Linked DNA regions of Homo sapiens: region 1 is linked to region 2. Evidence: fine-mapped expression QTL. Tissue or cell type: aorta. Region 2 holds a variant in brackets; the other region holds the start of a gene. All regions are shown on one strand. Distances are from middle to middle.

Evidence for each region. PIP is the estimated chance that this variant, and not a neighbour inherited with it, causes the effect.
Region 1: it holds the start of GPM6B, and the variant in region 2 is fine-mapped to the expression of GPM6B in aorta (GTEx, PIP 0.99).

Annotation. Positions count from the first base shown.
Region 1 is chrX:13,813,678-13,821,863 of GRCh38, forward strand. GPM6B (glycoprotein M6B) reads right to left here and starts at 3,416. Exons shown (of 8, transcript NM_001001995.3): 1 at 3,167-3,416. The coding sequence starts at 3,227.
Region 2 is chrX:13,787,639-13,795,824 of GRCh38, forward strand. The region is part of intron 2 of GPM6B (glycoprotein M6B); the gene reads right to left. Among named protein-coding and RNA genes, the nearest start is that of GPM6B, 25 kb to the right of the region's middle. The variant A/G (reference allele first, on the strand shown) is at 3,084.

The sequences.
Region 1 (8,186 bases), 26 kb after region 2:
GAAATGACAACAAGTAATACTCCACTGAAATCAATGGAAACCGACTCTCCATCTTTTTATTATTGGGTTCCATGATCTATTTCTTTTGATTCTGTCTTATTCATTTCCTCTGCTTATTCCATGTCAGTGAATCTGCTTACTCAATCTTCACACTTTAATGCTTTTAATTTAAAAACTATCATTTGTAATAATTTGGCATTTCTTACATCCATCTAAGAAAATCTGCTTGTTTTCCTTAAAAATCCCTAAATATCTACTAAATACTCTTGTGAATTTTGGTATCTGGTAGCATGCTGTGATGAAAACTATCAGACTGAAAAAACACAAATGCTTTCCTTTTTTAAGGACATGGATTAATTTTGTCTAAAGTAGAAACAAAGTCATTGTGATTAAGTTTAAAGAAAGAGCTCTCTTTGTAGGAGTTAGTGAATCACAATAGCTGGGTTGTGTTGTCCCGCTGAAACTCCCAGGAAAGATCCCAACTAGAAAAGCAAGGTCAATTTATAAAGCTAAGTTTAATTTACATTCTTAGTTCTTAATAGACACTGCAATAATTATCCAAAGATATTAATTCACATGCTATTGGGTATTAGCCATTGGGCAATAATGCCCCAAATTAAGAGACAGGCATCACTCCATCACCAACCACTGAAAACAGATGGGAAAGGAGAAACACAGGAAAAAAAATATATATGTGCATAAAAAACTCTGCGTAAAGTGACAAAATTTACAGGATTAAATTTAATGAATAAAATCCTTTGCTGAAAGGCTTAAAAGAAAAACATAAAAAACGGATCCACCAGCTCAAGAATTATATAACACATTCTATAAATAATTATGTCAAGTTTTCAAATGTTAATTTCAATGGAAAAATAATTTTTTAATAAACTTAAAGTTAAATCTGAAGGAATACTGATGTGACAATCACGCAGAAACATTTGTGGCTATCATTTTATCCTATGTGTACCTTAATGATGATGGGTGAGCAAATTGGGAAACTACAAAGTGTCTTGTGTGGGCTTTGATTTTGTGTAGCCAGCATATGAACTTGTTCATCTAAATGCAGATTAGATAAGCCACCCTCCAGATCAACAATTATGGTGGGTCACACAACAATCACAACCCCTCTTGCTGTAGATCAGGAAAAACAAATCCCCTGGCTTGTATTCTTATTCAAGCATGTACCATACATGTCACACTAGCTTCTGGTAGTGTGATATTTTTGAATTATTTAACAAGCAGCTAGTGTTTATACATTTAGGTAATTTTTAAAGTTCCTTCACAAATTATCTTTTGCTTCTAATTTTGTCTCTAAAATCACAACTAATGACTTTTCATATACGGGTTGTCAGGGATGTACTAGCAACCTGTAGATCTGTTATTAAATAAGATTTAATTGACATAAAATAATAGCAGTCCATAAGACTAAGTGATAAGATACACAGTTGTGTAGTAATGATTTTATATTGGTTATATGACCTTTGCTTCCTTTCAGAGAGAAATTTAAAAAAGGGATTTTTTTGCAAAGACCAAAACGGTTTTATCTGCCATGGTTGAATACCACATTAATAAAAATTAAAAGTATGTACTAAGTAAAATCATCATTTTAGGATAAAATCGTGATAGGCTTCCTTGGGACAATGCTATTACATTATCATACCCCGACAACATGCAATCAACTTAGTCTCTAGTCATCATGGAAAAAACTTTGATCTCACTTCTTCATCTTGATAAATATTCCCAAGAGCTTCTCTTATAGCTATTTGGTCATTGATGAAGATTTTTTTTTTTTAAAGACACACAAGAAAATACAGGCTGGGTTTTTGGTGGGGAGGTGTAGATTTGGTAAGAGGATTGAACTAAACAAACGATTTTAAAATTAAGGTGCTATGTACTTAATGCCACTGAATCGTATACTTAAAATGGTAAATTTTATGTTATGTGTATTGTGTGATACCTAAAAAAATTAATTTAAAAAGTAAAATTGCTCTGTTTAGGATAAAATATTATTGTGTACCAAAGAAATTTTATATAAAAACAAGCAGTCTTTACCCCAGCATACTGTGAAGCTGAAGTACATGTAATTGCCGTTTTTGTAGGTTTAAAATGGTTGACTATCAGCAATTTCATATGGTTCAGCCTGTATCTTTATAAATAAAACGAAGTTTTGTCCCCGTACTGGCGAATTACTCTTTAGTGACTATCAGTGGACGCAAGGGCTGTGAGAAATAACCTTAGCATGATGGCTTTTTATATTAGAGCCACTGCGGTTACAGAATATGTTTTTGGGCATTTATGACAGTCTATGACTTTGAGTGAGGGAAAATTACAATGCAGTGAGATCCATTAACCTAACAGTGGCTGAGCCGATTCTATGGGACATCAAACTTGAAATCAGTCATTATTTAGAAAAAAGAGATTAATTTTAGTTCCTTTCTGCCATTTTCTTACTGCAAAAACACTTTATTCTCCAAAAAACCATTCTGTATATGAAAATTGTGGTACGTTCTAAGATTCTCTTTAAGAAATAGGACCTTTATCAATTTTCTTCCCCCCAGTCTCCAAGTCATAATTAGCAGAAGATCCCCCGCCCTGCCTTTCCATCAGCACTGGGTGACAGAGCTGATGTCCCCTCTCTGAAGCTCCAACTGTAAATGATTATTACATGTCGTAGTCAGGGCCTGATACAAGAAAGAGCAATCATATTAGAATAAGAAAATTAGAGAATGCCCAAATCACTACAGCATTAGCGGAACCAAAGCAGAATTAACATGCATGCCCCTCCAGTTCCTCCTCAGCATTAGCAGAAAACTACACATTCCACGTTCCTGGAATATAACATGCAGGACACAAGACCTAAGTTACGATTAATTATATTAATAAAAAAAGACAGTTTCCCCAATGCATCAGCCCAAGGTGACAAACTATAGACATCCCTCTATGAAATATCACGTCGGTAGAAAGATTTGGAACAGGAATGGATTGAAGAAAGGCTGCTCTATTAACTTAACATCAGCCCACAGGAAAAAAATCAACCCTGAAAGCAAGACCATGCCATAGGGATTGTCTCAGAGCCATTTTAAAAGAGAGACAAAACCCAGCTAACCCTTTTTAAGCACCCCCCAGTGAAAAGCTTTAAACAGGCTATTGTCAGAGCGCTGGGTACCTTTTCTCTCTTGGCTTTGTTCAGTATTTTCCTCGGCTGCAGTTTCCATGGCTGGCTTCATACCATCCACCAAAAATGCTTTTCCCCCTGTTCCCCCCAACACACACTTGTTTTTCCTCCTCTTCCTTTTCTTTTGGACTCCCCTCCGTCTCTTATTTACACCCGTCTGATTGAGAGGCTCTGTTCTTCACTACAGTAGATTACAGTCCCTTCCAAGATGCAAAAGTCTTGTCAGCGTCAATTTCGCTCTGCCTACTGGTCCATAAAGACAGCTGCCAAGGGGCAGGCAGCCATACGTCACCGAGGATCCCAGTTAGAAAACAGCCATTCGGCGCCCGGTGGTGCCTACAGTCTCAATGCGGCTCCAGTGGGAGTTGGGGGTAGGGGGGTGGGGGAGAAGGACCTGCTCCCCACCGGGCTCTTCCTCCTTGCTCTCTTTCTTAAGATCTCAATCTCGATCTCTCTCTCTCTCTCTCTTTCTCCCCACCTCATTTCTTCTAGCCAAGTACACCCAATGAATGCTAATTAATTCTCCCAGGAAAAAATAGATTTGTGACATCAGAGGAGGGGATGTGAAGGAGAAAGAAAAGAGCCCCCTCCCACCACGTGACTTTGTTGGTCGACAGCAATATATGTCGTCTCTAAGGAGAATGCATGTCTTTGCATAGGCATGACACTTTCTTTCCTGTGTGGTCCATTTATGATGTATCAGTTTATTTCATTTACCCCTCGACCCTGGCAAAACATATTCAAAGGACGTGCCCATAGTCTCTATTTACTTTCTTAAATATTTGTCTTTCATACAATTTCTAGATAAGTACATTGCTTTTTAAAAATATAAATTAAAGAGGGGGAGAAAATACATTAGAGGGAAGAAAACTCAAACACGGATTTAACGATAGCAATGTAGCAATTTGTTATTAGAACCCACTCCCTTGTCTATAGTTAATATATATGATAGTAAGAGAAACTCAAGCCTAATTTGTAAAAAGGCACCCTTCCTTATTTAAAAATAAGCATAACATGTTCACAAGTATATCGAGCTGACATTTTGGTAGTTTCTTGGAATGAAAATCAAAATAGTTTTTTAATCGGATATGGTTATTTCTACATGGAGTTTTACTCATTAGAATTCCTCACTCCAAATCGAAGGGGTGTTTTCAAGAGCTCTCTAAATATTCAACATAAAGGCTAGTATACCAATAATGATTTGCCTTCTTGCATACCCAGATACCATGAGGCCAACATTCTCAACCCATACCAACATATAAGCCTTTATCATGATTATGAGCCATGTTTCCAAGCATCACTAATTTCTGCACCATTTTTTATGCATTTGGCTGACCAACTGGCCTTCGCCGTCCCTATAAAAAATTAGAGAGACTCAAGTCAAATACAGGGATGACCACTGATAGGATTCCCAGATCATGAATAGTCTGCTAGTTGGTTGGGCTTAACACTTATCTTGGAAGCAAACATAAAGACAAGTTGGAGACCACCCTCTCCTAAAATCACTCTCCTAAGTTTTGATGGTTTCTTGCTCAACTCCTTGAAAAAAAAGTATAAGGTACTGAATCAAAATCTTCTAAAAACCTGATCTTTTAATACCTTGGTTTTAGATAATCCCTCAAACCTTCTTATATTTAGAACTTCTAGATGTGTTACAGTCGAGAAGATTTTGAAAACCAGTTTAGCTTGTTTCAACGTTTAATTTTACATCTTGCTTTTCCCTTTACCATTGTCTTAGAAGACCACGCCCACAATCAAATATGTATTCCCTCAAATTAAGGCCCCAGCCAATTTTATTGTCTCCTGGTCAGGGGATTGAGAAGTATGGCAGCCTAAAACCACAGACTTTAGAAAAAAGATTCGTTTGTGATATAATTATTTCCATGGGAAAACCCTATGGTGTGTCCGGATAGGACAGTCTTAGACATTTTTTGCAAAGACTACTTAGGTCCATTCAAATATAGAAAGGTGGCAAGTGTTGGTATGTAACAGGCTTGCTTTCCCAGCAGTTCAAATGAGAATTAAAACCAAAACAAAATTCAATTCAGCACAAAAGAGGACACTGTGATTAGCTGTTATTGGTTTTTAAAGTGTCCAGCAAAAACATCTGATTATAGAACCAGCAGATCCTAATAATTTTTTGGCTGTTGCTTAAGAATATTATTTTAATAGTGATGCTGGTGAAAAGGCAGAATATGAAAGACATTCTTAATTTAAGAACAACTCTAGTTCTATATCGAGATCAAAACCATTAGACAAAATATTCACACATCCTCCAGTTGATACCTGCATCTACTTTCCACCTGAAAAACTACATGGAAATGAGCAATTCATCACTTTTGCCTGATTCACAACTTCATCATTTTCTTTTCACTAGGATAATGTATTACAATTCTAGAAATTACCATTATATCACTTTATAACAGCCTCAAGATCTCACTGATGTTTATGATAAACCATTTGAAAAACAATTGTCAAGAGGAAGAGAGAAGAGTATTGCTTATTACATTTCTGAGATATGCATCCATTTTTGGCCAGAAAAGTTCTATATGTAGAAGTAGGATGGAAAATGTCTTCCAGAGCTGAAAATATTTCTTTGAGCCCCATGCTCTAAGGCAGTCTGGTTGAAGGTAAGAACACTTCTGAAAGCCAAAACAGGAATACAAAATACTGAACAAAACAGATTAGAATAAACATATGAAATTGCTGATATTGACCAAGAAGAACAGCAGTTTCACGTGGTTTGACTTATATGTTTGTAAGTCTTCTGTATAATTGCAGCCAGCTCAGTAAACATGCATGAAGTAACCTCCCTAGTGCCAACATCTACAAGCAGCACAGACATGCACAAGTGACGATGCCTGTCTCCAGGTAACCCACGGCTAATGGGACACAGAAAACTCTTCTAAAACAGGGTGCTCCTGCCTGCCACAAGCACTATGGCATCACAACAAAGAAAATGGATGGAGGGGGAAGAGAATTTGAAAAAAGCTTTGCAGAGTTGAGTTGGCTATTGCAGTAATGCTTAGAAACCTGCTGGGTAGGGTAGGGAAGGGAAAAGCAGGAAAGAGGAACGGAAAGAGTTCTAGGAAAAACTGAAGGGCATATGAGAGGAAAAAGAGGGTACTGTCAAAGGGTCAGGAAGTGATTTTTCTGACAGAGGGACTGAAGGGAGATGGCTGAGCCAGTAGGTTGGGAACCAGGTAGGTTGAACACCTTGCTAGCCCTAGAGGCAGTAGGTAGAGATAGAAGGCTCAAGAGCAGAGCTGATCGTGCTTTACAAAGGTCATTCTATTGGTAACGTGGAAGACAGGGTGGGTGGAGTATGAGACTAGAGGCTGGCAAACTAGTCAGGAGTCTCCTGCAACAGTACCAGTAAGAGATAGTGTGAACCTGAACTATGGCACGGGGAGGAAGTGAGGACCCAGATGTCATTGGATTGGATCTGTATGAGTAGGGGTGGAGGAGGATTTGAAGGGGAGGCTAGAGTTTCTAGCTTGGGTGAGTGAGGAGATGGTCATGCTGGGAACCAATATGGGGAACCAAAGAGAAGGAAGAAGTTTGGTAGGGGAGATTATCAAGCGTGGTTGAAGGTGCTCTTAGGACATCCTGCAGGGACTAAGAGGCATTCAGGAATATGGCTCCAGAAGAGAGGAGCTGGCCAGAGAGCAGCATCCGGGAGTCTTCAGTGTGGAGGCAGCCCTGGGAGTACAAGAAGCCCAGTTCTGCTCAAATGCCATCTTCTCAGGGGACTCTCCCTGACTCTTGTCTAAAATAGCAGCCCTGACATTCCTGGTCCCCTTAATCTGGATTTGAGTTTCATCATAGCTTTAACCACGACTCAACACTGTTATTCACTTATTTGTTCATCACTTCCCATCCTCCTAGAATACAGGCTCCTTAAAGGCAGAAATTGTTGTCTTATTCTCCACTGTATTCTAAGAGCTCTTGGAACACTTCTGGGCACATAGCGGGTTCTCAACAAAATCTATTTTAAATCAATGTTAAACAACCAGGGAGAGATACAGATTTCAAGTATGCCAAGATTAGAGCTTAGGGTACACTACCTTTTAAATGTAAAGGTAAAGGAAAAACTTTAAAAAGAGGGTAAAAGAAACAAAGAAGGACAAATTAGAAAACGAGGGAAATAAGACCAAAGTGGAATCATGAAATTCGAGAAAGGTTCTGTGAAGGGCATCAAGTTAACAGTGTAGAATAGTGTCAAATACCATAAAAGGAGGAAAAAGGATGAGGACTAGCAAGCAGAAAGGAGTTTTACCACCAAATAGCCTTTGGAACTTCTGTGAGAAGGCTGAATGATGGGGAAGGATATAACACTTCCCAGTCTCTTTCACGATCACCCTCAAAATAGGAGGCTCCCAAGGTCCAGTTGACATGTTAAACTCATACATAGGGCTTTGGCTGATGCCTGTACATCTTGGCCCTGTTTTTAACCTGGCAAGATCATATTGGATTTTTCTTCTGTGATCTATTACATTAATGATCTTCCCAGATTTGTTCTGTTTCCAAGTATAGTAAATATGCTTTGTGTGTCTGGGATTCAAATCATTGATAGAAATGTTGAACACAACAAGACCAAGGTGAGGGAATCCCATGTAGACCTCTATGGACATCGTCCTGGTCAGTTGGCTGGTTCATTCTTTCATTTCTTTGTTCATTCATTCGTTTATTCATCCAAGATTCATTAAGCACTTATTAAAGGCCAGAAATCAAATCACTTTTTTTTTCTTTTTCTTTTTTGAGACGGAGTTTTGCTCTTGTTGCCTAGGCTGGAGTGCAATGGCGTGATCTCGGCTCACTGCAACCTCCGCCTCCCGGGTTCAAGTGATTCTCCTGCCTCAGCCTCCCAAGTAGCTGGGATTACAGGCATGCACCACCACCCTGGCTAATTTTGTACTTTTAGTAGAGACGGCGTTTCTCCACGTTGGTCAGGCTGGTCTTGAGCTCCTGACCTCAGGTGATCTGCCTGCCTCAGCCTCCCAAAGTGCTG
Region 2 (8,186 bases):
GATTTGTGAGCAGAGATGTTAGAGCTCAATCTTATTTTGTCACATGACTTTCTGGGGACTGAGGTGAGAGGAATGCAACTCAAAGTCCAAATTCTCTCCAGGTTCCCAAACTAAGAGAAACTAGAATCCTTGGCCTTGACGTATCTCATTATAAAGAGAAAACAGACATGGGTATTGTATCATCCACAACCTCCCCACATTCTCAGCCTCTATGATCATGTTAAGAAAAAGATGAATGCCTGCTTTCCTGGCTAACAAAGTTGTATCTGGTTCTTAAAGGATAAAGATGTGAGGCCTTGGGGCTGTGTGGTCCAAAATGGTAGCCACTAAGACATGTAGCTATTTACGTTTATTTAAAATTAAATAAAATGAAAATTTCAGGTCCTCTGTTGCACAAACCACATTTCATATGCTCAAAAGCCACATGGACTAGTGGCTACCGTATTGGACAACACAGATATAGGACATTTCATCATCACAGAACACACTGCTTTGGAAGATACATTTTGAATTGTCACATATTTGATTTTCTATAACCCAGGAGCTGGGTTCTAACTGGGTTTTCTGTTGGATTTCATTAATTCAGTATTTTGTGAAGACCTACTGGGTGCCAAGTACACAAAACTGAAATAAGATACCTTTCTGGCTTCAAGATAAATCCAATACTGCAGGCAGACAAGTAACACAATTATTATAGTCCAGCATGATGGGGGCAAAGATACAGACCCCTGCAGAGCCAGTGGAAAGAGAGTGGAGAGAAGGGGGACAGGGAAGATCAGAAGGGCAAATAATTCATACTGGATGGGTCCTTCTACAGAAAGATCTAGTATCCAGAATACTTAAACAGCTGATGTGGTGACACTGATATATAACCAGATAAAATTGTTCATTAATTCTCTGTGTGTATATATAGATGTATACATCTATATATATTTTTAAACTAAACCCACACCCTTTTTCATCATTTGGAGTTAGGGTTAGGTGTTATGGTGCAGCACACTCGCCCTTTAACGATAGAACTCATCCTTCCAAATCCACAGTTGCCACTTCAAACGGTCTTTCATCCAAATGGTTAGAGCATTCCAAAGAAATATCACAGCTCTCCCAGGCTCAAAAAGCCAAGTGGGGTTAGAAGAATGATGCTGTTCAATCCCAAATTCAATACTAGATCAAAGCTAAAGTTTCCCTCCAATTTATATCTCTCAAGGACTCTGTATATACCTCATGCTGTGGATCTAGTTTTATAACAGCAGGGAAAACCAGGAACTCAAGAATTTGGGGGATCACTTCAATGAATCATGCTCTCTCAGCAGATGCCAATGCTCTTAGGTTTTCAGCAGATGATTTTATTTGTGGCTGTAGGAACCCTGGCTCCTATAGAACAGAAATCACCATCTTTGCTCCACTGGCACAGATAAAACTCTTACGGACTGTGCCAGCCAACATGACTAGAAGCTAGTGACATAAAATATGGGAAAAATTTATAGGACATAATACAGCTGGATGTAGAGCTTATTCTAGCTTGGTTGACCAGTTATCTTCAGGGTTAAGATTGCATGTGTGGTAGATATCCAACAATCTATAAATGGATCACTCTCCACTGTATCTTCTATGTCAGTATAGAAGCCACCTCTGGTCACAGTGTGCATGATATCTTTGAACACTGGGCAATTTAGTCACATATCACACACTCATCCTAGAGGAACCAAAACTGCTGCAAAAAGTTAGTAAGAAAAAGCTAAATGTGTTTATTTAGGAGCTAGAGGATATAGGTAATATAGGAGCTAGACCACCTAGGGCTTTCCAGGCCACCTTAAGAATTCTGGACTTTATCTTCAAAATCATGGGAAGCCTTGACCAGGCGCCGTGGCTCACGCCTGTAATCCCAGCACTTTGGGAGGCCAAGACGGGCGGATCACGAGGTCAGGAGATCGAGACCATCCTGGCTAACACGGTGAAACCCCGTCTCTACTAAAAATACAAAAAATTAGCTGGGCGTGGTGGTGGGCGCCTGTAGTCCCAGCTACTCGGGAGGCTGAGGCAGGAGAATGGCGTGAACCCGGAAGGCGGAGGGTGCAGTGAGCCGAGATTGCACCACTGCACTCCAGCCTGGGTGACAGAGCAAGACTCCATCTCAAAACAAAAACAAAAACAAAAACAAAAAGACAAAAAAAACAAAATCATGGGAAGCCACTGCGTTTTTTTTTTGTTTTGTTTTGTTTTTTGAAACAGGGTCTTGCTCTGTTGCCTAGGTTGGAGTGCAGTGGCACAATCACTGCTCACTGCGGTGTTGAACTCTCTGGCTCAAGCGATCCTCCCACCTCAGCCTCCCAAGTAGCTGGGACCACAGGCCCATGCCACTGCACCCAGCTCATTTTTTATTTTTTAATTTTTTTGTAGTGACAGGGTCTCCTTATGTTACCCAGGCTGTTCTCAAACTCTTGGGCTCAAGTGATCCTCCCGCCTCGGCCTCCCAAAGTGCTGCAATTACAGGTGTGAGCCACCATGCCTGGTCTGCCAGGGAGCATTTTTAAGCATGGGAAACAGATTGGGGTTGTGAAAGATCACTCTGGATGATGTGAAGGGATATATGGATCTGTAGCTGAGAAGAGCTGAACTTGGATGCTGGCAGCTTCTACTGGGCAACAAGGAAAACTATCAGAGGTCAAGAAAAGATATGAGTGGACCATTTGTCATTTGTCAATTCCATGTGCTTTGCAAAGTGTGTTCATTGGACCAGCAGTGTCAGCTTCAGCAGGGAGGAACTTGTGAGAAATAAAGAATGTTGGAAGTGACCCCAGACTGAGTCAGAATCTGCATTTTAACAAGGCCTCTGGGGTGATTTGTGTGCACATGAAAATTTGAGAAGCCCATTTCTAGTCAACAGTGGCATCTTCCCGGTCTCAGGTGTGGCATCCTGAGTCTGTTTGAAGTGCCTGCTTTCATATTCGATGGTGTGTGATGTTTTTTCTCTAAGACGTGGCCCACTGGGTTTGGCCATAACCCTCCAGTCACTTGTGAATCAAATGGCAAGTTCCAAGGACTACAGTTAAGAAAAACAAAATGTTCCAAGTTGTCCAGCC[A/G]TCTTGAAAAGAGTGCAGCTAGAGTGCATTTTTGTGAGCCAAACAAGTACTGTTAACCTTGGAATTTTTCATGCTTTAGTGTCATGCCATAGACAGGGTCTGAGAAGACGGGAATTGAGTCACCTGAGAAAGCAGATTTCTAAACACACACACTCCAACCACCCCCTAAAGTGCTGGGAGTGCCTGTGCACAAAAAGGAAGTAGATCTGGGATTCAGGCTGTCCTTAGTAGTCATAGGCAAGCTGATGTTTTTAAATATAGGGGTGGTGCCAAGTACCAGCAGAACACCATGCTGTTAAAAGTTTACGATAGCTAAGGAAGATCAGTGCTTTTCTTGGATGCTCCTATAAATCCACAGACTGAATTTTCCCAAGCTTCAAACCAGCAATGACAACATTGGGTAACGTGAACGAGAAAAAATAAGGAAAGCATTTTTTTGATGACTGTGATGTATTCATGTAAAAAAATAATAATCAATGCCAGGTTTTTTTTTTTTCTTTCTTTCCTGAGAAAGAGTCTCACTCTATTGCCCAGGCTGGAGTGAGTGGTGTGATCTCCGCTCACTGCAGCCTCAACCTCCTGGGTTCAAGTGAGTCTTATGCCTCAGCCTCCCTAGTAGCTGGCATTACAGGCACATGCCACCACATCCAGCTAATTTTTTGTATTTTTAGTACAGACGGGGTCTTGCCATGTTGGCCAGGCTAGAATGCCAGGCTTTCTAGCACATTTTACTAGTAATTCTCAATACCTCTCACCAAACCCTAAAAGCCTCTGTTGGGCTGTCTTATGCCTTCATTTAGCTGGCCTCTGGATAAAAAGAATTTTAGGTTTTGATTCACACAAAAATTACAGTGTACATTAGCCTAAGACAGTTTAAATATAAGCCATGTAGTAGGGAAAAAAAAAATACACATCAATGCCTTTAAGTCTCAAAGGCTATTTTGTCTCCAGTATCCCTAGAACCTTTTGTGCAGAACAACAGAATAAAACACCTTTTGTCCTCAGGCTTGTGGATGGCCGTTGCCATGGCTGTGAGTTCATAATGGCCAAGTGATTTGCCCAAGTTGTCTGTGATCTTGGCTGCAGATTTAATGCTGGCTCAGACGTAGGGCTGGCAGGAACAAGGGCTCAGATTCTTCCCCAGGGAATGAATGTCACACATACATACACACACACACACACCCTCCCAAACACCCCCCAACAAACACCACACAAAAAAACCACCCCCTTACCTCTCTACATGGGGCCTTCCTTGCTATATTACTGATTCCTAATGAGCCACAAAATTAAAAAGAAAAGATGCAGGAACCAAGCTTTACAACTTTCAAGCAACAAGCAATGGGAAAATGGAGAGGGCGAAAATCCTAAGAGAAGCAGCAGTGAATGTCAGTGGACAGAAGCTTCCCTGATTCTGAGCTGGCCAAGCAATTCTCAACAGGGGGTGACTGTGCCCCTCAGGGGACATTTGGCAATATCTGGAGATATTTTTCGTTGCCAAAGCTGGGGGAGAGGGTGCTTCTGGCATCTAGTGAGTAGAGACCAGGGATGCTGCTCAACACCCACAGTGTACAGAATATGCTCTTATAACAAAGAATTACCCAGCCCCAGATGTCAATAGCTCCAATGTGGAGATTCTCTGAAGTAGCACAAAAAACATCTACATCGTTTAGACCACTGGTTCCTAATCCAGGCAATTTTGCCACCCAGGGACATTTAGCGGTGTCTGGAGACAGTTTTGGTTGTTACAACTGAGGGTGGGGGACACTACTGGCATCTAGTGGGTAGAGGCCAGGGATGCTCCTAAACCTCCTAGAATACACAGGACAGCCCCCATCCCCAAATAAAGAATGGTCACACCCAAAATGCCAATAGTGCTATAAACCAAAAATAAAACTCTGGGCCGGGCGGGGTGGCTCACGCCTGTAATCCCAGCACTTTGGGAGACCAGGGCAGGCAGATCACGAGGTCAGGAGATCGACACCATCCCAGCCAACATGGTGAAACCCCGTCTCTACTAAAAACACAAAAATTAGCTGGGTGTGGTGGCGCATGCCTGTAATCCCAGCTACTTGGGAGGCTGAGGCAGGAGAATCGCTTGAACCAGGGAGTTGGAGGTGGCAGTGAGCTGAGATTGTGCCACTGCACTCCAGCCTGGCGACAGAGCGAGACTCCGTTTAAAAAAAAAAAAAAAAAAAAATTCTAAGCACCCCCCACCCCACCCCCAACCATCTGAATAGATTCCTGGTCTCTGCCAGGGGGATTCCAAAGTTAGCCTGAAAAAACTAGTTCAGGCCATGATTGGAAGGGAGAGTCAAACATACCTCATTATACCCTCCTCCCTTCTGGAATTCAGGAAAAGCCAACCAGCATTAACATCAACAGACCTTAAATCTGCTAAGAGACATTTACAATCTATTCTCTCTGAAGCCTGCTACCTGGAGGCTTCACCTACAGGATAAAACTTTGCTCTCCACAACCCCTTATCATCATAACCCAGACATTCCTTTCTATGGATTCCAGGTCTTTACATAATTTTTAAATCTTCCTATAACCTGCAAGCCACCCTCTGACCCCCTTTGAGTTGTCCTGCCTTTCCAGATTGAACCAATGTACATCTCACAGGTATTGATTGATGTCTCATGTCTCCCTAAAAGGTATAAAAGTAAGCTGTGCCCCGTCCACCTTAGGCACATGTTATTAGGATCTCCCGAGGCTGTGTCACAGGTTCTTAAGCTTGCTAAAATTAACTTTCTAAATTGATTGAGACCTATCTCAGATAGCTTTGGGTTCACAGTGCCAAGAGTGAGAAACCCTGCTCTAAGGTTACAATACATAATTCTGGTCTCAGACATTTGGTGACACTGCCAAATTCTAAAATCTTAAAAAGAAATGCTTAAAAGAAAACTAACTTTCTTGGAAAACATTATAGAGCAGAGGTTCTCCATTTTTCCTACACATTGGAATAATCTGGGGAGCATCTGAAAATCCTGATGCCCTGGCTTCACCCCAGACCAATTTTATCAGAATTTATTGGGGACGGGACTCAGGAATTAGAGGGTTGGGGTTTGTTTTTTTGAAGCTCCCCCGGTAACTTCAATGAGCACTCAGTGTTATATAGCACAGGTCAGCAAACTGTGGCCCACCAGCTAAATCTGGCTCTCCTCATGGCCTGCAAACTCAGAATGATTTTGACATGATTCCAAGTGGTTACTTTTTTAACCGCTTAGAATATATTAAAAAACCTATTTTGTGACACATGAAAGGTACACAAAATTCAAATTTCTGTGTCTATAAATAAAGTTGTATTGGCACACAGCCACGCTCATTCATTTACATATGGTCTATGGCTACTTTCAAGCTACAAAGGCAGGGTTGAGTTGTTGCCACAGGTATTTACTATGTGGCCCTTTAAAGGAAAGTTTTGCAGACCTCTGTTAAAGAGCAGTGGTTCTCTCTCTCTCTCTCTTTTTTTTTTTTTTCCCAGATACAATCTCACTCTGTTACCCAGGTTCAAGTGCAGCAGTGCAATCTCAGCTCTCTGCAACTTCTGCCTCCTGGGCTCAAGCCATCCTCCTGCCTCAGCCTCCCAAATAGCTGGGACTACAGGAAAACTTTAACCTGCGTATAAATCTCCTCGGGACTTCATTAAAACGCAGATTCTGTTCAGGCAGGTCTGGAAAGGACATTGAGCTCCCAAGAGATTCTATCCTGCCTGCCCACCAGTCTCACTCTGAGCCAGGAGTGGGCCCTCAAAGACGGTCTGTGCAGCCCCGGCAGACCTCAAGATCCTTGCAGGAGGACTGTGAAGCCAAAACTTTTTATAATAGCACCAAGATGTTATTTACTTTTTTCACTGCTTGACATTTGCACAGTAAAACTGCTGATGCCTGAGCGTGAATCGGGCAGTGGCTCCATAGTGTACTTAGCAGGAACACATTCCTCACTACCACGCGCTCGCAAGAAAATAAATTAAAAAGCCAGTTTCACTTCCAAATGTCCTCGATGCAATAAAAAATTATTAATTTGATTAAATCTCAACCCCCGAGTATGTGCCTTTCGAACAGTTTGTGTAATGAAATGAGTGAGAGGATGCAGAGAGCCCTTCTACCACAAACCAGCGTGTGACAGTGGGCTGCAGGAAACATTCTTATGTAACTGAGTTATGAGCCAAACTTGTACCTTTCTGGGGGCAAACACCCCCTTTCTTGAAAGAATGCCTGACAAGATATAGTTTTTTAGACTTAAGTATTTGGCAGAAACTTTCCCAAAAATGAACAGCTTGTCACTTCAAAGAAAACAACTGATAGTATCTGTTGCCAATCAATTTTGGAAAACTTGTACCTGCCATAGTGAGACTGACAGCTTCCAAATACTTACCAGACTTCTTGATGAAATTGGTGGTGACATTAACCAATGAAATTTTTTTGACATGGTTTAATTAAATGTGTCAACGTCTGGAAGATCTGCACAACTCAGAGAACCAATATTTTCCAAATAGCCAAGGGAAAATAATTCTTGAATATAAGAGTCAATCAAAGTGCAAGATCAAGCAATGAATTTTAGTGGAAAAGAGTACAAAAATATCATCAATATGGTTTCAGATTCCACATTACAAGTAGTCTTTAAGAAACCACTAGCTGCTGAATTTTGGTGTAGTATCAAGGAAGAATTTCATAATTATCTGCAAAGGCCATTAAAACACTCCTCCATTCTCCAAGCACATACCTGTGAGAAATTTGAGTTTTCTTCATATACTTCAACCAAAGCAAGATACCCCAAGATGCCTCTGAATGAATGCAGAGGCAGATGTAAGAGTCCAGCTGTCTACTGTTAAGCCAGATATTAAAGAGATTTGCAAAAATGTAAAACAGTCCTATTCCTCACACTAAAATATTATTTTCTTTTTGAAAATCGTTATCTTTCCTAAACATTACTTAGGTTGACATATAATGGATTTGCTATTATTTTAAATGACTAAGTTTATTATTAAGTAATAAACTTCTCAGTTCTAATTTCTTTTCTTTTTTTTTTTTTTTTTTTAAGATGGAGTCTCGCTCCATCTTAAAAAACTCAAAGGCTGGAGTGCAGTGGCACGATCTCAGT